Homo sapiens: one gene and its partners. The protein of the gene in region 1 interacts with the protein of each later gene in a pairwise test. Each region holds a gene or a part of one and is shown in the gene's direction. Other genes may lie near its edges.

Region 1 (3,500 bases):
GTGCAGTGGCATGATCTCGGCTCACTGCAACCTCTGCCTCCCGGGTTCAAGCAATTCTCGTGCCTCAGCCTTCGAAGTAGCTGGGATTACAGGTGGCGCCACCATACCTGGCTAATTTTTTGTATTTTTAGTAGAGATGGGGTTTCACCATGTTGCCCAGGCTGGTCTCGAACTCCTGAGCTCAGGCAGTCCGCCCACCTCGACCTCCCAAAGTGCTAGGATTACAGGCGTGAGCCACCGCGCCTGGCCTTTTCTTTGGTGGTAATTTCCTGATCTGTTGAAAGGCCAAAAGTACACTGTGGATTTTAGAAGTGATGTCTTTTTTTTAGTGATGAGGGTTTTTGGTGGTGGTGTTTGTTTTTTGAGAAAGGGTCTTGCTCTGTCACCCAGGCTGAAATGCAGGGGCACGATCTTGGCTCACTGCATCCTTCACTTTCTTGGGCTCAGGTGATCCTCCCACCTCAGCTTCCTATGAGTGGCTGGGACTGTAGGAGTGTGCCACCACACGTGGCTAATTTTAAAATTTTTCTGTAGAGATGAGGTCCTCACTGTATTGCCCAGGCTGGTCTTGAACTCCCGGACTCGAGTGTTTCTTCTGCCTTAGCCTCCCAAAGTGCTGAGATTACAGGCATGAGCTACTACTGCACCTGGCCTTTTTTTTTTTTTTTTTCTTTTTTTAAAAAGACATTTGTGGTGAGTAAGAATTGCTTTGGGGTTTATGCCCACCTGTTCCTCAGAGCTGGCTATGGATGATCTTATGAGTGAGTTGTCACTAATGTTTGTATCGGGACTGGAATTCTCAGATGGTTGCAAGTCATTTGAGGTCCCAGAAGTCCAGCATAGAGATAGGGAGATTGTGGGCAGATCTCTTGAGCCTAGGAGTTCAAGACAAGCCTTGGCAACATAGTGAAACCCTGTCTCCACCAAAAAATACAAAATTTAGCCAGGCGTGGTAGTGTGTGCCTGTAGTTCCAGCTACCTGGGAGGCTGAGGTGGAAGGATTGTTTGAGCCTGGAAGGTTGAGGCTGCACTGAGCCAAGATCATGCCACTGCACTCCAGCCTAGGTGACAGAGTGAGACCCTGCTAAGAAAAAAAAAAAAAAAAAAAAAAAAAGATGGTTTGGTGGAGAAATACAGTCTGATGTTGTAAATAGGCTAGATAGGGAGTGGCTACTAGGGTGAGAAGGAACTAGGCTGTTTGTTTACAGCCACTGGCAAGAGTTGTTGCAGCAGAACTTTTAGTCCATAGTCCTGACTCTTAAAGGATGCTTCAGGAGTGAGCACCTAGGGCTGGCATATGGACAGGTGTCCCAGAACAGCATGGTTTGGCATCACCTCCTCCAGTCCCTGCCACCGGGGAGCTTTGCCCGATGGTTTACAGTTCAGGCATAGGAAGCTGCATTGATTACAGTGATCACACAGACATCCTTACAGTATTGGGGGGTGGGTTGGGGTGAAAATTAGTGGTTAGATAGTAAGTGTTGTTGCCATGGATTCGGGAGATCAGATATACTAGCCCTAAGGAATAACCCATACATAGTTCTTGTGTTGAGTTGCATTAGGTTTGTCCACTGGGCCTGTCATGTGACCAGTAGAGAGTAGAGTGAGCAGCCGTGGGTTTTCTAGGCCAGGAGAGGAGGAGCCAGCATGTAGCTTGTGTAGTCTCCTTTTAAAGATGCTCTTTGCTGAGGTGCCTTTTGCACTTAATTGAAATCAGCTGGAGTGAGATGTTTTCTTAAGTCATATAAGATACATAGTAAGAACTGAGAAAGCAATTTTCTTTTATTTGAACCCCTCCACCCGTCACTTCAAGATAGGCTATTTGTGTTTGTAGCTAGCTGTGCTGTTCTCTTGGATACCCGTGATTTTAGCTGACTCAGGTTCTCAAGTCTGAATATATTGTACTTGCCTTTCAGTGACATGCCAACCCAATTTCCCACGGGGCAGGTGGAGGCGTTTAATGTTAATTGGGGAAAAAAATCAATATAAGTCTTTTAGAATTATTCCTTTTTTTCTTTTTGGAGACAGGGTCTTGGTCTGTTGCCTGGACTGGAGTGCAGTGGTGCGATCTTGGCTCACTGTAACCTTATACCTTGTGGGCTCAAGCAATTCTCCCACCTCAGCCTCCCAAGTAGCTGGGACTACAGGCACATGCCAACATTCCCAGCTAATTTTTTTTTTTTTTTTTTTTTTGTATTTTTTTGTAGAGACGGGGTTTCGCTATGTTGCCCAGGCTGGTCTCAGACTCCCACCTCGGCCTCCTAAAGTGACTGTTTTTGTTATGAAGAATTATCGGCCGGGCCTGGTGGTTCAGGCCAATAATTCCAGCGCCTTGGGAAGCTGAGGCTGGAGGATTGCTTGAGCTCAGGAGTTCAAGACCAGCCTGGGCAACATAATGAGACCCTGTCTGAAAACAAAGAAAAACACAATGAGATACTACTTCACATGCACATAAATGGCCATAACCAAAAAGACAAATGATAACAGTGTTGTTGAGAATTTGAAGAAATTGGAATCTTCATACATTGCTGATAGCAACGAAAAATGTTCTAGGTCTTGAACTCCTGGGCTCAGGTGATCTTCTAGCCTCAGCCTCCCAGTTAGCTGGGATTGCAGGCACATGGGCTCCTTGTGATTTTGATTTGCATTTCCCTATTTAATGATGATACTGAGTGTCTTTTCATGTGCTTATTGCTCATTCCTATAGCGTCTTTGGTTTAATATCTTTCCACGTCTTTTGCTCATTTTTAAATGGATTGTCTTAATATTGATTTGCAGATGTTGTTTGTATCAGGTCCCTTATTGGATATCTGCTTTGCAGATATTTTTTTCTATTCTGTGGCTTGTCTTTTCACTTCATTAGCAGTGTCTTTTGAAATCACGAGTCTTTAATTTGATCAAGTTCAGTTTATCAATGTTTTTCTGTTATTGCTCATGCTTTTGCTGTTGTATCTGAAGAGATTTTTGTCTAGCCCAAGGTCACGAAGATTTACTCCTGTGTTTTCATAGAAGAATTTTATAGTTTTAACTTTTACATTTAGGTCATTTTTGTTTTACATTTTGAGGTCATTTTTGTTTAAAGTGTGAGATGTCCTAAATTCACCTTTTTGCATGTGGATACCCAGTTGTTTCGGTACCTTTAATTGAAAAAAACCCTTTCTACATTCTATTGCCTTGGCAATTTTGTCGAAAATTAGTTGACCATAAAAGTAAGGGTTTGTTTCTGGACTCTTAATATTTTTCTATTGATTTATTTTTCCACTGGGCTATCGTTATGTCATTACCAGACTGTCTGGATGATCATATCTTTGTAATACATTTTGAAATCTGGACTGTAAGTCATTTGACTTTGTATTTCTTTTTCAACATTGTTTTGACTATTTTGAGTCCTTTGGATTTCCATATACATTTTAGGATACAGCTTTATCGATTTTTGTAAAAAAGACAGCTGGGATTATGATTGGGATTGCATTGAATCTGTAGATTTAATTGGGGTGATG
Region 2 (3,500 bases), on another chromosome or scaffold:
GTGCATTTTTGTGCTCTAGGATGACATGATCACTTTCTCCTAAATTTCATCATTAGTCTTTCTTGTTGATTTTGCTCTGATTAGCAGTTTCTCTTTTAATTTTCTTCTCCTTACAGAAATGATTACAGTAAAAAAATGAATTTCTGAGATGTTTAGCCTTTGTCTGAATAACACTCTCAGCAGATGTTAGGATAGTTGGAGTCTCTCAGTCTTTTTTTGACTCTGGCTCCCATGTCAGTTTTACAAATTGTGCTGGAGAAGCTTGCTGTCTCCCGCTTTGGCCTGTGTAGTCTGTGGGTTACTCCCACCTAGTATTGTTTCTCTTTTTTGGAGGTCATCTCAATTTTATTTAAGAGACAAATCTGCTAGTTGTAGCTATCACAGGAGCAGACACCACATCCGATATAACAACAGAGTGGACAGGAAATGTTTGTTAAATGAACAAAGCATTCATTCTAGTGATACAGTGGTCTGAAGTCTTGATAATTTTATAAATTGTGTTACTACCTTTAATGTAAGAAGAATGCACTTTTAATGACTGTCTAAACTCTACAAACCAATTCTGTATAAATCCTCATGCCGTTGTGTGGAAATCTGTACAGTGATTTTAGAAATTAGGAGTTATATCTTTCTAAGGAAATCTTAGACAATGGCAGTGATTTTCATCTGGAAGCAGTTGATGTTATGTCTATATAGCTAACAAACTGGTAACAAAATCAAACTCTGAACCCATATAGCTCATGTCAGACCCACAGTTAGGTTAATAAGAAAATGCAGAAATATTTTCAGGGGCACATCAAAATAAGCACTAGACAAACTCTAGTATGCGTTTTTTTCTGTGGTTTAGAATTTCATGGAGGTTAAGATACCGCACTGAGTTGTAGTGTTATCAATTTCCATTTACTCCTGTTCCCCTCCACCGACCATCTCCTTATGTCTCATCCTTCGAGCGCAGAGCCAAATGAGGAGCAGAGTCTGAGATCTAATAACATTGCAGAGCTGAGTCCAGGAGCAATCAATTCCTGTCGAAGTGAATACCATGCAGCTTTTAACAGTATGATGATGGAACGCATGACCACAGATATCAATGCACTGAAGCGGCAGTACTCTCGAATTAAAAAGAAGCAACAGCAGCAGGTTCATCAGGTGTACATCAGGGCAGGTAATGTGATTCTTCATTTGAATCAATTTCAGCTCTATCTCAACTTGTAAAATGAAGAACAAATAATCCTAGGAAGGCCTTGGAATTACTAACTGTAGCTCAGTATCCATCAACACAGCTGGCATGACATAATAGCATATTTAGCATCTCATTTTAAATTTTATTTTATCAGGCTCTAAAGAAGAAAAAGACTGCAGGTTCTTTTTAGGCCCCAAGGACCAGGCAGTTGATGGTATTAAACACGTCTCTACTGTGTGTGCTGTGGAGAAGGGTTTACAAATGATTAAAATGTTGCAAAGCCATGCAATCCTTGGACTTGAGAAATTTTGGAGCATAAATTTTATGCATCTGAATATAGAATCATCTGTGCACTAGTAAATTAAGCTGTATACTAGTCATTTAGGTGATATTATAACAGATGTTGTATCAGAGAAACTGGGAAAAAAAACATTAAAAACCTGTGCCTTGCTGATGGCAAGTATCTTGGGAATATACTAAGAAGAACACAATTATAATGCAATTGGAAATGCTCTTTTCCAAGGATTGCCAAGCTTTTTTCTTTTTAATTCCAAAAATCCCAGTGAACAGTCTGCTTTATTGTTTAATATATGCTGATTTGGGAGTTGTTTTTTCTTGCTTGAAGTGAATATCTTAATGAAAATGGTGCCTGTCCAGAATTAACTGAAATATAAATTTGACATGTTTTTAAAGTGGCATGTGAGCATGTGACTGATCCTGCACAAAAACTGAATTTACCTTCCATTTATCAGAGAAGAATAGTTGACTTCTTGATGATTCTCACTTTATCCTGAGTCATTAAGAAACCAGTCACAAAATAACTGAACAATTTCACTTTAAGTTTCAAAAACATTGGCACATACATTTCCTCATTTTGTCCTTAAAACAAATCTATGAGGAAGGCAAGGACAGATAGTCCCATCTTCTTCCAAATAGTGAGGAAATGGTGATTCAGGAAGGCTTAGCAATTGTCCAGGGTTATATAGCTATAGTGAGTGGTCAGGCCAGGGCTAGAACACAGGTGTTCTGATTCTTTGTACAGTCCCTTTTTAACTACACTGTACAAGTCTTTGGGTGTGACGGTAAACAATTGCTCAGGGTGCTAAATCGGCCCAGTGGTTTGTACCTTCATCAGGGATCAGCAAACTGTGGTCTGTAGGCCAAATCCTGCTCACTACCTGTTTTTGTAAATACAGTTTTTTGTTTGTTTGTTTGTTTTGAGATGGAGTCTTACTCTGTCATTCAGGCTGGAGTGCAGTGGTGCAATCTCAGCTCACTGTAACCTCCACTTCCCAAGTTCAAGCAATTCTTGTGCCTCGGCCTCCCAAGTAGCTGGGATTACAGGCATGCACCACCATGCCTGGCTGATTCTTGTATTTTTAGTAGAGACGGGATTTCACCATGTTGGCCAGGCTGGTCTTGAACTTCTGACCTCAGGTGATCTGCCCACCTTGGCCTCCCAAAGTGCTGGGATTACAGGAGTGGGCCACCGCACCTGGCCTGTAAATACAGTTTTATTGGAACACAGGCATGCCCATTTGTTTACAGGTTGTCTAAGGCTCCTTTCACACTACAGTGGCTAAAATATTTACAGTCTGGTCCTTTACAGGAAAAGTTTGCTGACCCCTTCTTCAGATCATGGTTGATGGTGGTTCTCTTTAAGGGAGAGATTGCTGCTCAAAGGCAAAGCTCTAGAGCTTTGGTTCTTGAAATTTAGTGTGCATACAGATCATTTGGGGATCTGCTAAAATATTCACTCTGTTTCAGTAGGTTTGGAATGGAGCTGAAATTATATGTTTCTAACAAGCCCGTAGGCACTGCTGGTGCTGCTGCATGGGGACTGTATTAGTCTGTTTTCACACTGCAAATAAAGACATACCTGAGACTAGGCAATTTATAAGAGGCTTAATGGACTTACAGTTTCACATGGCTGGGGAGGCCTCACAATCATGGTGGAAGGCAAGGAGGAACAAGTCACATCTTACGTGGATGGCAGCAGGCAAAGAGAACTTGTGCAGGGAAACTCCCATTTTTAAAACTATCAGATCTTGTGAGACTTCTGCACTATCATGAGAACAGCACGGGAAAGACCTACCCCCATGATTCAATTATCTCTTACTGGGTCCCTCCTACAACACGTGGGAATTATGGGAGCTACAAGATGAGATTTGGGTGGGGATATGGCCAAACCATATCAGAAACCATGGTTTGAGTAGCATGGTTTTAGATGAGATGGTATATGATAGGATTAGCAGCACAGGTGGAGAGATTGAACTTGAACTAGAGGCAAAAAGACCTTAGCTTCTGAGACTTAGTGGAA
Region 3 (3,500 bases), on another chromosome or scaffold:
ATAACCCCTTGAGCCCAGAAGTTGGAGGCCAGCCTGGGCAGCATAACGAGACCCTGTCTTTAAAACTGAGTAGTGTAATTCTACTGAGTAGATTTTTCAGAGGCTAGAGGTGAGCCCTTGAAGATCCTGTTTCTCATTCCTATTCCATGGAGAGAGACATCAAGTCAGAATATTGGACCTCAGTCCTCCTATTAATTACTTATTTGACTATAGGCAAGTTATTTATTCTGTGTGAGAAGGCAACCTGTGAGACGGTGATGGAGACTTAACAGTGATTCTGGGAGGCATTGAATCAGGAATTCCACAATAGAAAGTATATGGAATCAACCTAAGTGTCCATTAATGGGTGAATGGATAAAGAAAATGTGGACTGGGCATGGTGGCTCACGCCTGTAATCCCAGCACGTTGGGAGGCTGAGGTGGGCAGATCACTTGAGCCCAGGAGTTCAAGATCAGCCTGGCCAACATGGTGAAACCCTGCCTCTATAAAAAAATACAAAAATTAGCCAGGTGTGGTGGCGCATGCCTGTAGATCCAGCTACTGGGGAGGCTGAGGTGGGAGAATCACTTGAGCCCGGGAGGCTGGGTTTGCCATGAGCTGAGATCAAGCACTGCACTCCAGCCTGGGCAACAGAGCAGGACCCTGTCTCAAAAAAAAAAAAAAAAAAAAAAAAAAAAAATGGTATACACACACACACACACACACACACACACGAATACTATTTGGTCATAAAAAGCAATGAAATCATGTCATTTGCAGCAACATGGATGGCAGTAGAAGTCATTATGTTCAGTGAAATAAGCCAGGCACAGAGAGACAAATACTGCATATTCTTCCTCATATGTGGGAGCTAAAAGCGTTGATCTCATGGAGTTAGAATAGAGTGATAGATGCCAGAGGCTGGGTATGGTGTGTGGGTGGGAGAGCGGGATTAAGAGAGGTTGGTTAATGGGTACAAACGTAGATGGAAAGAAATAAGTTATAATGTTTGATAGCAGAATAGGGTGACTATAGTTAGCAACAGTGTATTACATATTTCAAAGTAGCTGGAAGAGAGGTCTGAAATAAATACTCAAGGTGATGGGTACCCCAGATATACTGACTTGATCATTACACATTCTATGCATGTAACAAACTCTCACATGTACCCTATAAATATGTAAAGTATGATGTATCAGTTAACAGAATCAGGAATTGGATTTTCAACCCGTGTGTGCCACCTATTAGCTGTTTGACCTTAGACAAGTCATAAAATCTCTCTGAGCTTTGATTCCCTTTCTTGCGAGATGGGGAATACTAATACCTGCTTTACCTTAGCAGGGTTGTTGTGAAGCACTCAGTGAATATTTGTTAAGTTTCTAAAATGTAAAGTTTGAACATAGTGGTTCCCAAAGGCAGGCTGTGGCTAGGCTGGCTGCATCATTATCACAGGGGGAGCATTTAAAAATAGAAATATCAGGGCTTCTCCTGTATATACTGAGTCAGTACATCTGGGGTGGTGTGGGAGGCACGGGAAGAGCAGTGATCTTGGAATCTGAGTATTTTACAAGTTCCCATGTGATTTAGTTGGACAGCCTTGCATAGGAATTGTTCTAAGGCATCAATAGTGGCATGTATTATTCCATTCTATAGAGCCACGAAAAATGTATTGGATGAGAGAAATTGTTCTGAGGGGAAAAAAAAGTATCTAATGATAGTTGTTCTCTCATAATTAAATAGTTTTTACCCTATTTCACAATTTGTGCTGTGCCAGTTAGTTGATAATAATGAAGGATACAATAATTGTAGCCACTGTTTAATGAATGCTTGCGAGATGCTTTACATATTTCGTTTTACTTAGCCCTTCTCAAAATCCTTGTGAAATAGGAATTGTTATTCGAATTTTATAGGGAAACCATGCTTAGGGAGGGTAAGTAAGTGACTAAGGTCACATAGCTAGCAAGTGGTGGGCCTGGTTTTTAACCTAGGTTCTTTGACTTCAAAACTCAAGCTGTTTCCATTATGCTACACCATAAAATCAGTATTTTTATGTTTTTTTCTCATTTTGAGCAATAGAGTGTCTCTTACATACCTTGCTTCTAGAGTATGTAAGAACTAAGAAAATACTTAGTTTTTCTTCTTTTAATTTTTGCAGATGAACTTGAGATGCTTTCTGAAGCCAGAGCCCGCTTGGCTAATACTCAGGGAAAGAAGGCCAAGAGGAAAGCAAGAGAGAAACAATTGGAAGAAGCAAGGTATGTGTGGATATAGGAATAAAAAGCAAAGTGTTTTTCTCACATAACAATCAACACAGAATACTTCTGTGACCAGATATGTGGTTTTTTTTTTTTTTTCCCCTCTCCACCAGCAATCAGGCAATCAATTCTGCAGTGGATAGCTGGGTGTCCTCTAATTCAGTTAACTCTAATACTGTCTACCTGGAGATAGCTCCAGATCTTACAGGTTGAGGACTTAGTCCCACAAGACTGAACCCCAGTTTTGATGCTGACCCTAAACCCCAGGTTATTTTGCTTGTGTTTCTGACCAGCGAGCTGGGTTCCACTGCCCCTTCCTTGGGTTCCATTCATCTGCTAGAGGACTCACAGAACTCAGGGAAACACCCACATTTACAAAGGATATTTTAAAGGATACAAATCAACGGCCCCATGAAGAGATACACAGGGTGAAGCCTGGAAGGGTCCTGAGTGCAGGTGCTTATGTCCCATTGAAGTTGGGATATGCCACCCTCCCAGCCAGTGGGTGTGTTCTTGTTCACCTTTTCGGAAGCCCCCATGTATTTGGCTGCCCACAAGTTCTCCAGACTCTGTCCTTTTGGGTTTTTATGGAGGCTTCATTAAATAGGCAAGATTGATTACATCATTGGCCATTGCTTATCAACTCGACCTTCAGCCCTTCTCCCCTCCCCTGAGGTTGGGGGTTGTGGCTGAAAGTCCCAAGCCCTCTAATCCTGCCGTGGTCTTTCTGGTGACTGCCAGCTATCAGTCAACTCATTAACATGCAGAAAGACACTTTTCACTTGGAAGAGTCCCAGGATTTTAGGAGTTGCATTGTTGGAAACGGATGAAGACCAAATACATTATTTCACAATGTGTGCTTGTCTCCATTCATAGTTCAATAATTAGTCTAGGCATCCTTAGGACCAATAAAACTGCATGATTTATTAACCCGTTGGGTGAATAATAATTGGAATTGTCCAGTTCCTATTTCGCTAGTATTCTTTACCTTCTTTATTTCTCTGAAACTATCTTGTATTTTTTTCCCCCAACCATTTCAGAATATTTATAGAAAACCATATTTAAAAAAAATTGAAGCTATGGCAGAGGTAATGCCCAGTTTATCCAGTATGTTGAGTGTGTTCTGTTGGCATATGAGAGCTTCATTTGTTGTAGCTATTTTGGAGTCAGATGACTGTAGGACACACAAGATTATGTGTCTTTTGTATGACTGCCAATTAGTTACTTTCCTTGATTGGTATTGGGAAGGCACTGGCTGTGAAACA
Region 4 (3,500 bases), on another chromosome or scaffold:
CCGAAAGCTTGCCAAATACATGTTTTAATTATTTACATTTCCCCTGTTTAAGTTAATATTTGCAGTCTAAAATATATCAAAAGCAGAAGCCTAGTTCTCTGATCCCTTTCCCTACTTGGAAGGGAGGAAGATTCCAGATAACAATGTGCTCCTGGACCACTCAACCCAAAATGAACATGGGAATCACACAACAGAATGTGTTGTGTAATAGTGGGGAGATGATATCTTGCTTTGGTTATCATGTCATCTCTTTGGCTTCCCTACGGTACTGTGGAGACCGGCTAGTTTGGGAAGTAAGGGTAAGGATGGAGTAGGAGAGTGGAATTGTAAGCCCTGAGAGCCTCACTACCTTGCAGAGACAAAAGAACATTGTTGTTCACCCCATGAACTGTGATGTAGTAGAGAGAACACTGGGCTACCATTTTAAAAATACCAGGGTTCTATTCTCAGCACCATCACTGACTATCTGTGGCCTTGGGCAGGTCACTTTTCTTCTCTCAATCCTAGTTTCCCATTTGTAAAATAAGGGAAATACAGTATCTATGTGTCCCTTTGGCTGAGTTTCCATGTTTCCCTGCTCTGCACAGGATTGCTCCATCCATACAAGACCAAACTCAGCTCTCAGAGGAGTGGACGTTTGGAGTAAATATCCAGAGACTCCATAAGAGTGATGATTCCGTGACTCTGTATAGTAGCCATTCCTGTGTTATCTGGGAAAGAAATTGAAATAACCTAACTTATGCTAGTAGTTCCATTCAATTGCCACAAGCAAGGAGCCTGGCCTAAGCCTAGTTCTATGGGAGTAATGAAATAGTGGAATCATAAGCCCTGGTTCATCTCATTACATCTTCTAAGACTCAAAAGAAAACAAAATGAATTCACTTTTGAGGGGGTGGCTTATGATGAATTTTCAGTGTGTTTTTCATTCTGTCTCTCTTACCTGCTGGTTAATGTCCTTGTCTTTCCCCATGTTACAGGCCTGTATAATTCAGTAGACAGCTGGATGATTGTTCCCAACATTAAACAGAACCATTACACAGTGCATGGACTCCAGAGCGGGACTCGCTACATCTTCATCGTTAAAGCCATAAACCAAGCCGGCAGCCGGAACAGTGAACCTACCCGACTAAAAACAAACAGTACGTTGTGGTGATTTCAAAAGGAAAGATCAATTTTCTTCTCCATGCCAGGGGAGTACACAGCCTGAGCAGGCACTCACAGCAGTGCATGGGGAGCAGTGGTACTGGGTAGAGGAGCTATACTGTTGTAGTTTGTACTTTGGGCAAGGAGTTTGTTGGTGCCCATGGGAGATTTGTGGACTCAGAGATATGCACAAAAAGACTGTTAGCTTGGGAGGATGTTAGTGAAGAGTTTTCTCTGTACTCCACCCCTTATATTTGGGGGACAATTGCATAAAAGAGCATTATTTGTGATAATCTAGTAAAATCTTACTACAGAGAAGCCATATCTGTTAGGAATGCTTTTGACAGCAAATAACAAAAAGTGCAACTAACATAGCTTAACAAATAGCGTTTGTTAATTGTTTAAATGAATAGTATATATTTTATCTCTCACACATACACATAGGAAGAAGTTTGAAGGTAGGCAGTTCAGGGCTAATGCAGCTGCTCTGCGATGTCATAAAAGATGCAGGCTCCTTCTCCCTGTGTGCATTGGCTTCTTGCCACATGGCTGCAAGATGGCCACTGCAACTTTCAGATGTCATATTACCTCTCAAGATAGGAAAGAGGAAAGAGTTGGTACACATAATGGTTATCCCTTTTATCTGGAAATCCAAAACTTTCCTAGAACTTTCCCCTGCTCTGTCTGACTTCTGCTTCCATCTGCTTCCATGTTCTTAGCCGCCCCTAGCAGTAAGGGAGGCTGGAAGATTGAGTATTTAGCTTTTCCGGCCTCTATAGTGAAAGTGAGTAAGAGAGAAAAAGTTGGGAAAGGGTAATGTGTTAGCCAACAGTGTCTGTCACAGAAGCATTCTGTATAAAAATCTCTTGCCACACCCAGCAACTGGTCCCTCAGTAACAATGCCTTTGTCATATGGTTATAAAGAATTATCTGTTGTGAATGATCCTACACAATAAATGTTTTCTCTGATCATTGATGATGCAACAGTCACTCTAACAAAATTGCCTAATTATATGTTATTTACATCCCAATTGTAAGAGGGCAAAAATAATTGTTCAGTTGCTGAGTTCTCAGGGTTTTCCGGTTCTGCCATCAAGCAGCAATTACATCAATTCCCCTCACCTCAGACATCATAACACTCTTTCTGTTAAAATCTACCCAAATCCCAAACAACCCACTGAAATTAAGCAAAGTACAAAACATATTTGAGAACATGAAACTTTGAGCACTCCCTTTTACTTTGATAATATATGATGTGGGGGACAGCTTATTAGCTCCTCTTTGCTTGGAATATGACTTCCCTCAAATTGCTTTTAGGAGAGATCCACATTTTTTCCCACAGTGGGAAAATAAACGCCGTTATGAAGGTCGTTTTATGGGAGATTGGCCTTTATTCTTATTTTATTGAAAACTCTGGTTTCTGGCCTGTTTTCTTAATAAAATTTAAACAGCAGCCAACTTGCACTGGACCAAGAGTGATCATGTTATCGAGCATACCCTGCCAGTGATGATGCTGGTGGAAAAGGTAGAATTTTAAGATACTTCATAGTGCTTTTTCTTTTTTTTTTTTCTACTTATTTTTCAGGCCAACCCTTTAAATTGGATCCCAAAATGACTCACAAGAAGTTGAAGATCTCCAATGATGGATTGCAGATGGAGAAGGATGAAAGCTCTCTAAAGAAGAGCCACACCCCAGAGAGGTTTAGTGGCACAGGGTGCTATGGGGCAGCAGGAAATATATTCATTGACAGTGGCTGCCACTATTGGGAGGTGGTCATGGGTTCCTCAACATGGTGAGTGGATCCCATTTTCCTTTTCTTTTCTGTCCTCTGTCATTAGGTTCCTAGGAGATTCAATTCTATAGCACAACCATAATACCAATAAGTCAAGGTTAAAAGGTATGTGATGAAAACCACTCCTAGAAAAATTTGCCAGCTTTTTAATAAAATAATGGAAAATATACTGGGCTAGGAGATGGAAACTGCCACATTGCTCTAATTGCTAACTTTTTAAAGCTCTAGTGATATCAGCATTATGCATCTAAGTGTAAACTATTTAAGGAATAAACATATATCCTATTTGTTATATATCATATATGGTGTCTTACACAACTCAGATAATTCATAAATGTTTATTTCTCTCTCCTTTCCACTGTCTCACAGGTATGCAATTGGCATTGCCTACAAATCAGCTCCAAAGAATGAATGGATTGGCAAGAATGCCTCCTCATGGGTCTTCTCTCGCTGCAATAGTAACTTCGTGGTGAGACACAACAACAAGGAAATGCTGGTGGATGTGCCCCCACACCTGAAGCGTCTGGGTGTCCTCCTGGATTATGACAACAATATGCTGTCTTT
Region 5 (3,455 bases), on another chromosome or scaffold:
GGGTAGAGAAAATAAGGGGAGGTTTGTAGAAAAACATAACTACACAAATTTTATATACAGGTTTGACAGTGAAGGGGAGGACAGAGAAACCTGGAGGGAAAGAGAGGGTGGAAAGAATGTGTTTTTCAAGACACGAGACTTGAACAAGTTTAATTGCTGTTGGAAAGGAATAGGCAGAGAGAGAGAAAGAGAAGGAGAGGGAGAGAGATTAAACATCCAAGATAAGAAAGTGGGAAAAATGAATAATTGATAGGTCAGGGTCACCAAGAAGGCGGGAGGTGATGGGAGTCTTGGCCCAGGGACCGGTCACTTTCACCTAGAGAGAATGGTGAAGCTGCAGGTAAGTTTCGCGGTAGCAGTGAGAGTGTTGCTAACTGGTGACAGCATCTGCTTCCTTGATAATCTGGATGGTGAGACCACCTGATGAGAGAGAGTGGGGGCGATGGTGCTGCTGAAGATTTCAGGACAGTTTTGAAGGTTTGAACAGCTGCTGGGTGAATGGAGAGAGGTGACTAAGGAAGCAGGCAGACTGGCGGGTAGCCTGGGAGAGGCCGGAAACCACGCCATCATGGGGCACCCATTTCACAGACCGATGTGTTTCTGTGGCATCCTGAACACATGTTCAGAAAATGTGGGCAGGTAGATGGATGAAAGGTGGGGAGATTTTGTGGGAGTCTGTGACAGAATGGGAATAGTGAGGGGAGTTGGAGGTATTGGTGAAGAAATGGTTGAAGTGATAGTCTTTGGACTCAAATTGACTCTGAAAGGCAGTGTGGATGGGAGGGGCTGACAGGGAGAAGCTGGGGATTGGGAGTGTTGATGTTGAAGAGCAGATGTGATGGGGAATTGAGTGCCGGAGCCCATGGCCTCAGAATGCCTGGCTTAAATAGAATCTTTCAAAGATGGGACATTTGCAGGTGGAGAAGGCCCAGTGGAGGGGCTGTGGGACTGGGTGACAGAGGGGAGTGGAGGGGTGAGCTGGGCTGGCCCAGGAGGGCGCTTCCTGGCTGCCCTGAGATGTCTCGGCACTGGTTGGGGCTTCAGGACCAATTTCATTATGATCTGACATTGATTTAGATGGCAAGGGGCGATTACTCAGGCTTCTCTCTGTGTTCACAGTTGCTAGAGAATGAAATACAAGCCCCAGAGTCAAAGTTATTGATTTCTTTCTCCAGATTGGATAATCTAATATCAACCCTGAACCATTTCTCAGTATGGAAATATCCATGCCAGTTTCCATTTCTAGAAGAAAAAGATGTCATTGGGTCAATTAAAAAGGTACATTATGATACAAGGGTACAGTGTCAAATGATTCTCCAAGAGGCAATGATGGCAGTTGGCCCTTTGAAGGACTAAGGGAGTTTGTTCTCCAGGGGAAGGGAAACCCCAGCTGACATTTCGGAGATAGTATTTTTTCCTCCTGATTTTGAAAGGATAAGCAAATAGTCTTCATTGGAAAGTGAGAATTTGGGGGTGATTTGAGGTTGGGATAGGGAGAAGGCTTTACTTTTTATTTTATACATTTGTACAATGAAATTATTTTTATGGTGATAAATTACTACTTTTATAGTAAGACTTTTTTAAAAAAACAAACAGATGAAAAGGAAAGAAAGGAAAGGAAGGGCAGGAGGAAGGAAGGAGAGAAGGAAGAAAGGAGGGGAGGGAGGGCGGAGCTGTGGAATTAGAGCAAAGGGAAATGTAGAGAGAGATAGCAAAATGAAATTAGGCAAAGAATTTTTCAGAAATATGGAGGAGGAGGTCGGGTGTATGTGATAAGAAACAGACTCACAACGACCGCAAGTTAACTGACTACTCGAAGCCTAGCTTTTCTGGGTCCATGGCAGTAGTTCCGAAACTTCGCTGCACATTAGAATTACTGGGGGAGATTTATCAGCTCTGACAGCCAGGTGTACTCTGACCTGATGAAATCAGGAGGTCATGGGCTGGGAGCAGGCATCATTGTTTTTTAATGATCCCAGGATGTTCCCTTGTGCAGCAAAGTTTGGGAACAGAAATTTCTCCTATGGGTTTGCATAAGGACAGGTCCTTCGGTGCAGTGGGCATCCCTTCAACAGTGTCGCCCCTAGAGAGAGTATCTGATGCTGGTGGAAGCTCTCTTCAACACACTCTGGGGCACTGCACTCAGCTGTGGTTCAGTGCAAGCACATCTGCGATAGGGGTTTCAGGTGTGTGTGGCTCTAATGAACTGGCTTGGCTCAGGGGTAGAATTTAGATATTCTAGAATAGTGGTTTTCAAGCTGGTTCTGTGAAGCCCTGGGGAACTAGAGAGGGGGTCCCGTAGGCAGAGGCTACCCTCTGTACGTCAACCAGGGCTGCGCTAATTAGATTGCTTCATATTTTGGGCTTCCAGGTAAGAAATTGTTTGGAAAAAAACTTCTTAAGATAGAGAGATGGCTCACTCCTGTCATCCAGCATTTTGGGAGGCCAAGGTGGATGGATCACCTTAGGTTGGGAGTTTGAGACCAGCCTGACCAATATGGAGAAACCTCATCTCTACTAAAAATACAAAATTAGCTGGGCGTGGTGGTGCATGCCTGTAACCCTAGCTACTAGGGAGGCTGAGGCAGGAGAATCACTTGAACCTGGCAGGTGGAGGTTGCAGTGAGCTGAGATTGCGCCATTGCACTCCAGATTGGGCAACAAGAGCAAAACTCCATCTCAAAAAAAAAAAAAAAAAAAAAGACAGGGAATCATTGATCTAGAATAGGGCTTGGTCAACTGTGGCCTGAGAACTAAAAATAGTTTTCTATTTTTATATGGTTGGAAAAAAATTCATGACACATAAAAAATATGAGATTCAAATTTCAGTGTTCATACATAGAGTTTTACTGAACACAGCCATTCATTTATATATTGTCTATGGCTGCTCTGCAGCAGAGTTGGATAGTTGGGATAAAGACCATATGGCCGGCAAACCCTCAGATATTTACTGTCTGGCTCCTTGCCGAAAATATTTGCCAACTTCTATTCTAAAAGAATCAGTGGAAGTCCTTGTTTTTTTGTGTGTTTGTTTTTGCAGCTTGGTAATATGCACCTCACCATTTCTATCAGAAAATTGAGATGTACTCTGCGTCATCTATACAAACAAATATGCTCTGTGTGAGTGTGTGTGTGTGTGTATGAGAGAGAGAATTTACTGATTTCTAGACCTGTTTTCTCACTGTCCTCATTTCTGCCTTCTTGCCTTGTAAGATAAATATGTATCATTATTTTTTCTCCCTTGAAATAGACCTTATTTTTTACAGCAGTGGTAGGTTCACAGCAGAATTAAGCAGAAAGAACAGAGAGTTCCCATATACAACCTTCCCCCCGAAAAGAGCCTCCTTTCCTGTCAACATCCTTTATCAGAGTGGTACATGTGTTACAACTGATCAACCTACAACGACACATCACCATCACCCAAAGCCCATAGGGTACATTAGGGTTCATTCTTG
Region 6 (3,500 bases), on another chromosome or scaffold:
AAAAATACTGATAGAACTCAGTGAGGCTATGGATAAAATGGCACCCACATGCTTTTCTGGTTAGAGTATAAATTGGTACATTTTTCCTGGAAGTCACTATTACAGATTAAAATTTCATGTTCTTTGACCCCTCAATTTTTATTTTAGATATTCTAAGTAGGTGGTTAAAGATATAGAAAGATAGATGCATGGAATGCTCATTCAACATGGCTTTTAATTGCAAATATTAGAAACAATCTAAATGTTCATCAGTTGGTAACTGGTTAAGAGAATTTTCTGTTTGATTGTTTTACAATAAGCATAAGTAATTTTTATAAAAACAGTAATATTATTTTCCAAGAAGGAAGATATTTTGGTACGTTTCTTCCTGGTCTTTTTCAATGTACTTTTTAATGTGGTTAAGATTACATTGCATAAGCAATTTTATCCAATTTTTTTCACTTAATATTATATCATAAAATATTTTTCCATATAACTTAAAACTGGCTGCTTAATATTCCATGGTAAGCATACTTCATAATTTACTTTCCATATTCCTTTCGAAAATAACTAATAGTGTTATTTGTGATATTTTAGGCCAAACTGTATTATGTATTTTCCAGTGTGACTTAGTCTTATATCCTGAGAATAAAATTATGATGCTGAGAGTTATTTAACCTCCTCAATATAAAGCCTAGTTTTAATTTCTCTAATAGTCTCTTCTAAAGCTTACTAATAAGAGAAGTGTTACTTCTCAGAGAATTGTATAACATAATGGAACATAAAACTAGAAGCCCCTGTGGAAAGATAATCTAAAGAATCTTAGTGAGACTTCTATTAGCCATAAACCTAAGGTTATTTAACAGTGTTAGCATTTGAAATCTAATTGCAGGCCTTTGCCCTTTTTGTCAAAACCAAAGAAGTTCCAACAAAAAGGAGTTTTGAATGTAAAGAAAAATTGTGGAAATGCTGTCGGCAGCTATTCACAGACCAAACCAGCATCCATAGACATGTGGCAACACAACATGCTGATGAAATTTATCACCAGACAGCTTCTATTTTAAAGCAACTGGCTGTGACATTGAGCACCTCAAAGAGTCTTTCGTCTGCAGATGAAAAGAACCCTTTAAAAGAGTGCCTTCCACATAGCCATGACGTGTCTGCTTGGCTCCCTGATATAAGCTGCTTTAACCCTGATGAGCTGATAAGGTAAGATTTTCATTCTGTATTTTGGTTTGATTTAAAGTATTTTTCCAACCACAATGAGATACTACAATTCACCCATTAAAATGGCTAAAGTGAGAAAGACCAACTGTGTCAAATGTGAAATGAGGATGTGGAACAACTGGAACACCCAGTCACTGTTGGTGGGAATGTAATATGGCACAACCACTTTGGAAAAGTGTTCGGCAATTTCTTAAACATGCATCGTTCCTGTGGCCCACTCCTGGGTATAATACCAACAGCAATAAAAACATATCCACAGAAAGCCTTGTACAAGAATGCTCATAGCAGTTTTATTCATAATAACAAAAAACTGGAAACAACTGCAAATATCCATCAACAGGAGAATGAATAAACTGGTATAGTCATGTAAGAATATTGCACGACAATAAAGTGCTATGAACTGCTAATATTCAAGAACGTATATGGGTGAATGAGAAAATCCTTATGCTGAGTGAAAATAGCCAGACAATACATATTTTCTGATTTCATGTACTTGAAGGCAAAACTAATATATGATGATAGAAAGGTTCTGGCAGAAAGTTTGGGAATACACAAGAGATTTTTTGAGGTATTGGAAATGTTCTGGTTTTGATAGTGGTGTGGATTACACAGGTATACTTGTGTCAAAAATGATCAAACTTTACACTTAAGATCTGTGTATTTCACTTGTAAACTGTGCCATGCTTTAAACATTTTTAAATAAATAGGGCAGGAAAAACTAAGCAAAAAAAAGGGGGGGTTTCTTTTAAGCTAGATATCATTATCTGTATGATTTCAAATATACGTATCCAGAAAAATGCATCATTTACTAGGTTTATTGGGGAATGTAGCATTGCACATAGGGAATTTTTAAGAAAGCAGGTAAATGTAGCTTACATTTTAAAGCATCTAAACTTTCTTTGATTTAACCTTTTTTTTTTTCTGGAGTCTTTCAAACTGCATTAGACTCTTCTTTAATTGCATAATTAAACAGAGTATAGTGAATGTGATTGAACTTTTTGTGAGTGCTTTAATGCCATCAGGATGAACTTAAGTAGGATGCCAAGGTATAAAAGTTTGTCTTTTTACTAAGACGGCTCAGACTTACTCTTCTGTTACCTCTCCTCCCTCTCTTCTAATTCTAGATCCAAACTCTCTGTATTATTGCTATGTACCAAATTCAGCTTACAGCAGCATAGTTGGTGTTACTAGCTCAGAGTCTCTCATGAACTTGCAGTCATCTCATTGCTTGACTGGGGCCAGTAAATCTGTTTCCAGGTTCACTCATGTGGTTGGTGGCAGGCTTGTTTTTTCAGTGGCTTTTAGTCAAAGGCCTCCATTCCTCTCTGTGGGGGTCTCTTCATAGGCTGCCTGAGTGCTCTCATGACATGGCATGTGATATGTGAGAGACAGAGACACTTCAAGACAGAAACCACAATCTTTTATGACCTAATCTCAGATTGCCATACCATCACTTTTTATTGATGCTATTGGTCACGTAGACTAACCTCAGTACAGTCTAGGAGAGAACTATGCAAGGGTCTAAATACCAGGAGGCAGGATCATCAGGGATCATCTTGGAGGCTGGGCACCATACCTCAGAGTTGTTACTTTTTAGTGTGTATTACCTAGCAGCACTGCCTGCACTTTACCTATTCTTTCAGGATCTTAACTACTTGCAACAGCTAGATCCTTAAGGCACAGAATTCTAGAGGCCTAAGTTAGGCCAATAACATGCATACTATATATAGCCAAAGACCATAGCCTGTGCAGCAGCATATACCCAGTCAGTTGACATTGTTTGTGAGGTTTTTTCTTTTTTTTTTTGAGACAGAGTCTCACTCTGTCACCCAGGCTAGAGTGCAGTGGTGTGATCTTGGCTCACTTCAACCTCTGCTTCCCAGGTTCAAGTGATTCTCCTGCCTCAGCCTCCCGAGTAGCTGGGATTACAGGCATGCACCACCATACCCAGCTAATTTGTATTTTTAGTAGAGACAGGGTTTCACCATGTTGGCCAGACTAGTCTTGAGCTCCTGACCTCAGGTGATCTGCTCACCTTGGCCTCCCAAGTGCTGGGATTACAGGTGTGAGCCACTGCATCCAGCCTGTTTGCAAGGTTTCTTGGAGACCATTCTACATATTCTTTAGGGAGGAGAGGTAAAGAAAGAAAATTATATTATTTTCAAAAACAAGTGGGAAGACACAGAGACATTAATGATTCCTCTACCCTATGTAATGTCAGAGCTTAAAAAAGGGTTTTGTATTAGTCTGTTTTCATGCTGATAAAGACATATCCAAGACTGGGCAATTTACAA
Region 7 (3,500 bases), on another chromosome or scaffold:
TATCTCAGGAGTGCATCTTGTGGAGCAAGCTGAATGTAGAGAAATTCAGACCTTTCAGTGCAGGCAGGCCCCTTCCTCACTTACCTCGTCTTCCATCTGTACTTTGTCCACAGCCGCTCTCTCCCTAGGCCTGACCGACCACCTCATTCTGAAACTTCCCTGGAGGTCTGGAGCGGAATCAGCCAGGAAAGCTCTGGACCTTCCCCTGCTGCCTTTCTGCTCTCTCCTGTTTGATTTGTTTTTGAAACCTATTCCCTCCTTTTGTCCGTGACCAGGCTCTGATTTCACCTGAAGTTCATGACCTGAGTCTGTCGCCTCTTCTGCTCCTTGTGTTCAGCTCATCTGTGACTTCTTTCTCAGTCTCTCCATCACCTCACCAATTCAGTGACTTCCCAAAGACCTTTACCTCGTGGCATTTCACCTTACATAAAACCCAGGAAAGAGAGAGAAAATAAAAGGCCATTCACGTATCCTCCTATCTCCAGGAATCCCCATGACTCTACCAGTTACGTAGGGGCCAGAGAGTCACTAACGATTTCACAGCGGTGGGGTCTCCATGTTTTGTGTTAAACTAATGGTTTCCCTCCCTAAGCGCTGTAGGTCACTCACACTGATGGCTCTCTTTTGTTTCTTTCCACCTAATGTAGTGCTTTTAAATACCTTGAAGTAGCTTAACAGGATTATTAAATAAAAAGATAAAGCAGTTTTTCCACGGACGATTCAAACACATACACTTATTCAAACACTCTTAGGGAAGGCAAGCCTTGGGTATTTTTCAGCCCTTCGTAGGAGAAAGCTCACATGTTTAGGGTTGTCATGGGACTGGACAGAGCCCCCAGCTCTGCTCTCAAGTCTGCCTGTTTTCATACAGACCAAAGTGAGTGTATAGCCCAGCTTCGTCTTTCCAGTCAGTTAAGGTCAGACGCTGCCTCTCTTGTTTGATGGTGCCACCCTCTCCATTCTAGCACTGTTTCTCAACCCCCATCAGAAGCACGGCCCCGCTCTGTACACATAAACAGAAGAGGCGACAGCCTTCAGGATGACCTCACAGGTGATTAGAAGGCGCTTTCCCTAATGCAGCTCCCCACAGATGTCAGAAATCCCACTTTTAGAGGAAATTTCTCAGGGAATTTCGGGCCATGGGAATTAACTACACTTGTACTTCATGGCCACTTATTAGAGTTTATGCAAAATAAGTGGCTTCTGCGTTCATCGTGCTAGGGTGAGAGGTCATTAAATACCATTAAGTGGAAAGCACATAGAGACCAAATAGCTTCACAAAAATGTAAAGCTTATAGGAATCCTCAGCAGTGTCTCATAGTAAGAAAGGATGGTTTCAACAAAATTATGTAGTGTAATTTGGAAGGTGCCTTAGAGAGCACATTGTCCAGTCCCTTACTTTAGAGATGTAGCCTGTGCTTATCAGAAAAGTGGTCTGCCTAAGGTCGTGCAGCTTGAAGGGGGAAAGCTGGTCCTAGAACCTGGGTCTTCAGAGCATCAAGCCAGAGATCTTACTCCCCTCCAGGACAAGATAGCAAACCCAGAGTCCCAGAGGCCCCTTTCCCTGATGCTGTCCTCTCAGTCACTGAAGCCTGTAGGTAGACGTGGACCAAAGCCACACATGGCACGGTATCCCTCTAACATGCAGACATAAACTCCCTTTACATGTGAGGGTGCCAATTTCTCAGTGAATGGAATAGCTTCACCCATCACCAACATGTTTTTACTGTCTCCTTGACAGTGACTTGACAGGTTTTTGTTCCAATGAGAGGACATACTCAGATTATCTTTACATATATTCTATACAGTGTATACATACTGTATATACATAGCTTGTAGTCCTCATCTTTATAAAGTTTTTTCACAGATAATCGAATCCTAGAATTGGAAAGGATCGAGGCCACAGGCACAGTGGCTCACACCTGTAATCCCAGCACTTTGGGAGGCTGAGGCAGGTGGATCACCTAAGGTCAGGAGTTTAAGACCAGCCTGACCAACATGATGAAACCCCGTCTCTACTAAAAATACAAAATTAGCCTGGCATGGTGGTGCATGTCTGTAATCCCAGCTACTCGGGAGGCTGAGGCAGGAGAATCGCTTGAACCTGGGATGCAGAGATTGCAGTGAGCCAAGATCGCGCCGCTGTAGTCCAGCCTGGGCAATGAGCAAAACTCCATCTCAAAAAAAAAAAAAGAAAAGAAAAGAAAAAAATTGTAAAGGATGTTAGAAGTCATTTAATCCAACTCGCCACCCAATAAAACAGTCCTCTGAATATTTCCAGCGAGCTCATTCATGATCAACTCTAATCACTGGAAACTTCTTCCTCAGTGGGGAGCCAAAATCTCACTTTCTGTAACTGATTTATCCCTGTCCTCTCAAGCTACCCAGGATAAGCTCAGTCCCTCCTCTGCAGGCTCGCCTTTCACGGGTTGGATGGCAAATGACAACCCTTCCTAGTTTTCTCCTCTGTAGACTGCTACACCCAATTCCTTCAACCTTTCCAAACGTGACATGGTTTTCTCTTACCAGCCTGCTTGACCATACCAGGATGTGGCCATTTTCCAAGGCTCCTATTCAAAGTACATGCCCAGGGCCCAGCACCCTGCTCTCCATCACAGGGGATCTTGTCCCTGCAGAGCACAAGGCATCTGTGACCCTCTTGAGTGTCCCCTGGAAAAGCACCTTAGACGGCATTAGCACTTCCCACATAGCCACTTTGCACTGTGCGGTCATTTTAAGTTTATCATCAGCTAAAACATACGGAATTTTTTTTTTTTAACAGAACCCCGTGTTAATCTAGGTATTCCCCCACCATATATTGTATGGTCACTTTCTTAAACCTGAATGCAAGACATTAGATGTCTCCCTGGTCATCACCACCTGAGGGCAGACAGGCATAGAACAGAGGCACGCAACCCCACACTGCACGCCCCCAGCCCTGGTCAGGAAAGTGAGCGATGTGACCGCACTGCTCCCTTTGGGCTGTGGTCTTACGGGCTCCTATTCAGCAGTGCTGGGGCGTGGGCCGCACAAGTGCAGACTGGTGAGCTGAAGCACCCTCAGAGGCCTGCAGCCAGGAGCTGTTAGCTAGAGTTTCCTCCCAAGCCTCAGCAGTTGCTTTGTTCACCCTCCTTCTGTACTTGTCCTGTGCCGAAGGGTCACTGGCCTCCTTGGACTTGTTTTCACAGCAGAGGAAGGTGCAGAGGAAGAAGAAGAGAAGATGCAGAATGGGAAAGACAGAGGTAAAGGCAGCTCAGCAGGACTGCTCGTTTAAATGGGGAGCCCGAGCTCATGGATCAGCCGCCCCCCACTTTGTTTCTGCATTCCTCCCTGCCACCACCTTTCCCAGAGCTTTCGGACCCGAGGTCCCTGTACCTACTTTTCCCATCTGACAGTCAGGTTTTACCTTCCAGGTGACAAGGTCAGTCGATCACCAAGAGCTTCCTCATTTCCTGATCCTGGGATAGGTAGTTGGGATACAGGAAGTAGATACAAGTAGA

The links.
Region 2: the proteins of ZRANB1 (region 1) and TBC1D30 interact in binary tests that used the Homo sapiens proteins (3 or more experiments, as listed by UniProt).
Region 3: the proteins of ZRANB1 (region 1) and CDC5L interact in binary tests that used the Homo sapiens proteins (3 or more experiments, as listed by UniProt).
Region 4: the proteins of ZRANB1 (region 1) and MID2 interact in binary tests that used the Homo sapiens proteins (3 or more experiments, as listed by UniProt).
Region 5: the proteins of ZRANB1 (region 1) and FAM124B interact in binary tests that used the Homo sapiens proteins (3 or more experiments, as listed by UniProt).
Region 6: the proteins of ZRANB1 (region 1) and TSTD2 interact in binary tests that used the Homo sapiens proteins (3 or more experiments, as listed by UniProt).
Region 7: the proteins of ZRANB1 (region 1) and DTNB interact in binary tests that used the Homo sapiens proteins (3 or more experiments, as listed by UniProt).

Annotation. Positions count from the first base shown.
Region 1 is NC_000010.11:124,976,623-124,980,122, forward strand, and holds part of ZRANB1 (ubiquitin thioesterase ZRANB1), read left to right. Parts: intron 1-3,500. UniProt on the Homo sapiens protein: Ubiquitin thioesterase, which specifically hydrolyzes 'Lys-29'-linked and 'Lys-33'-linked diubiquitin. Also cleaves 'Lys-63'-linked chains, but with 40-fold less efficiency compared to 'Lys-29'-linked ones.
Region 2 is NC_000012.12:64,869,647-64,873,146, forward strand, and holds part of TBC1D30 (TBC1 domain family member 30), read left to right. Parts: intron 1-955; coding exon 956-1,162; intron 1,163-1,334; coding exon of another isoform or gene 1,335-1,394; intron 1,395-3,500. UniProt on the Homo sapiens protein: May act as a GTPase-activating protein for Rab family protein(s).
Region 3 is NC_000006.12:44,394,206-44,397,705, forward strand, and holds part of CDC5L (cell division cycle 5-like protein), read left to right. Parts: intron 1-2,135; coding exon 2,136-2,235; intron 2,236-3,500.
Region 4 is NC_000023.11:107,923,366-107,926,865, forward strand, and holds part of MID2 (probable E3 ubiquitin-protein ligase MID2), read left to right. Parts: intron 1-977; coding exon 978-1,139; intron 1,140-2,728; coding exon 2,729-2,936; intron 2,937-3,305; coding exon 3,306-3,500. UniProt on the Homo sapiens protein: E3 ubiquitin ligase that plays a role in microtubule stabilization. Mediates the 'Lys-48'-linked polyubiquitination of LRRK2 to drive its localization to microtubules and its proteasomal degradation in neurons.
Region 5 is NC_000002.12:224,381,653-224,385,107, reverse strand, and holds part of FAM124B (protein FAM124B), read left to right. Parts: intron 1-3,455.
Region 6 is NC_000009.12:97,623,369-97,626,868, reverse strand, and holds part of TSTD2 (thiosulfate sulfurtransferase/rhodanese-like domain-containing protein 2), read left to right. Parts: intron 1-871; coding exon 872-1,188; intron 1,189-3,500.
Region 7 is NC_000002.12:25,383,578-25,387,077, reverse strand, and holds part of DTNB (dystrobrevin beta), read left to right. Parts: exon of another isoform or gene 1-716; intron 717-965; coding exon of another isoform or gene 966-1,015; exon of another isoform or gene 1,016-1,051; intron 1,052-1,867; exon of another isoform or gene 1,868-2,012; intron 2,013-3,188; coding exon 3,189-3,242; intron 3,243-3,500.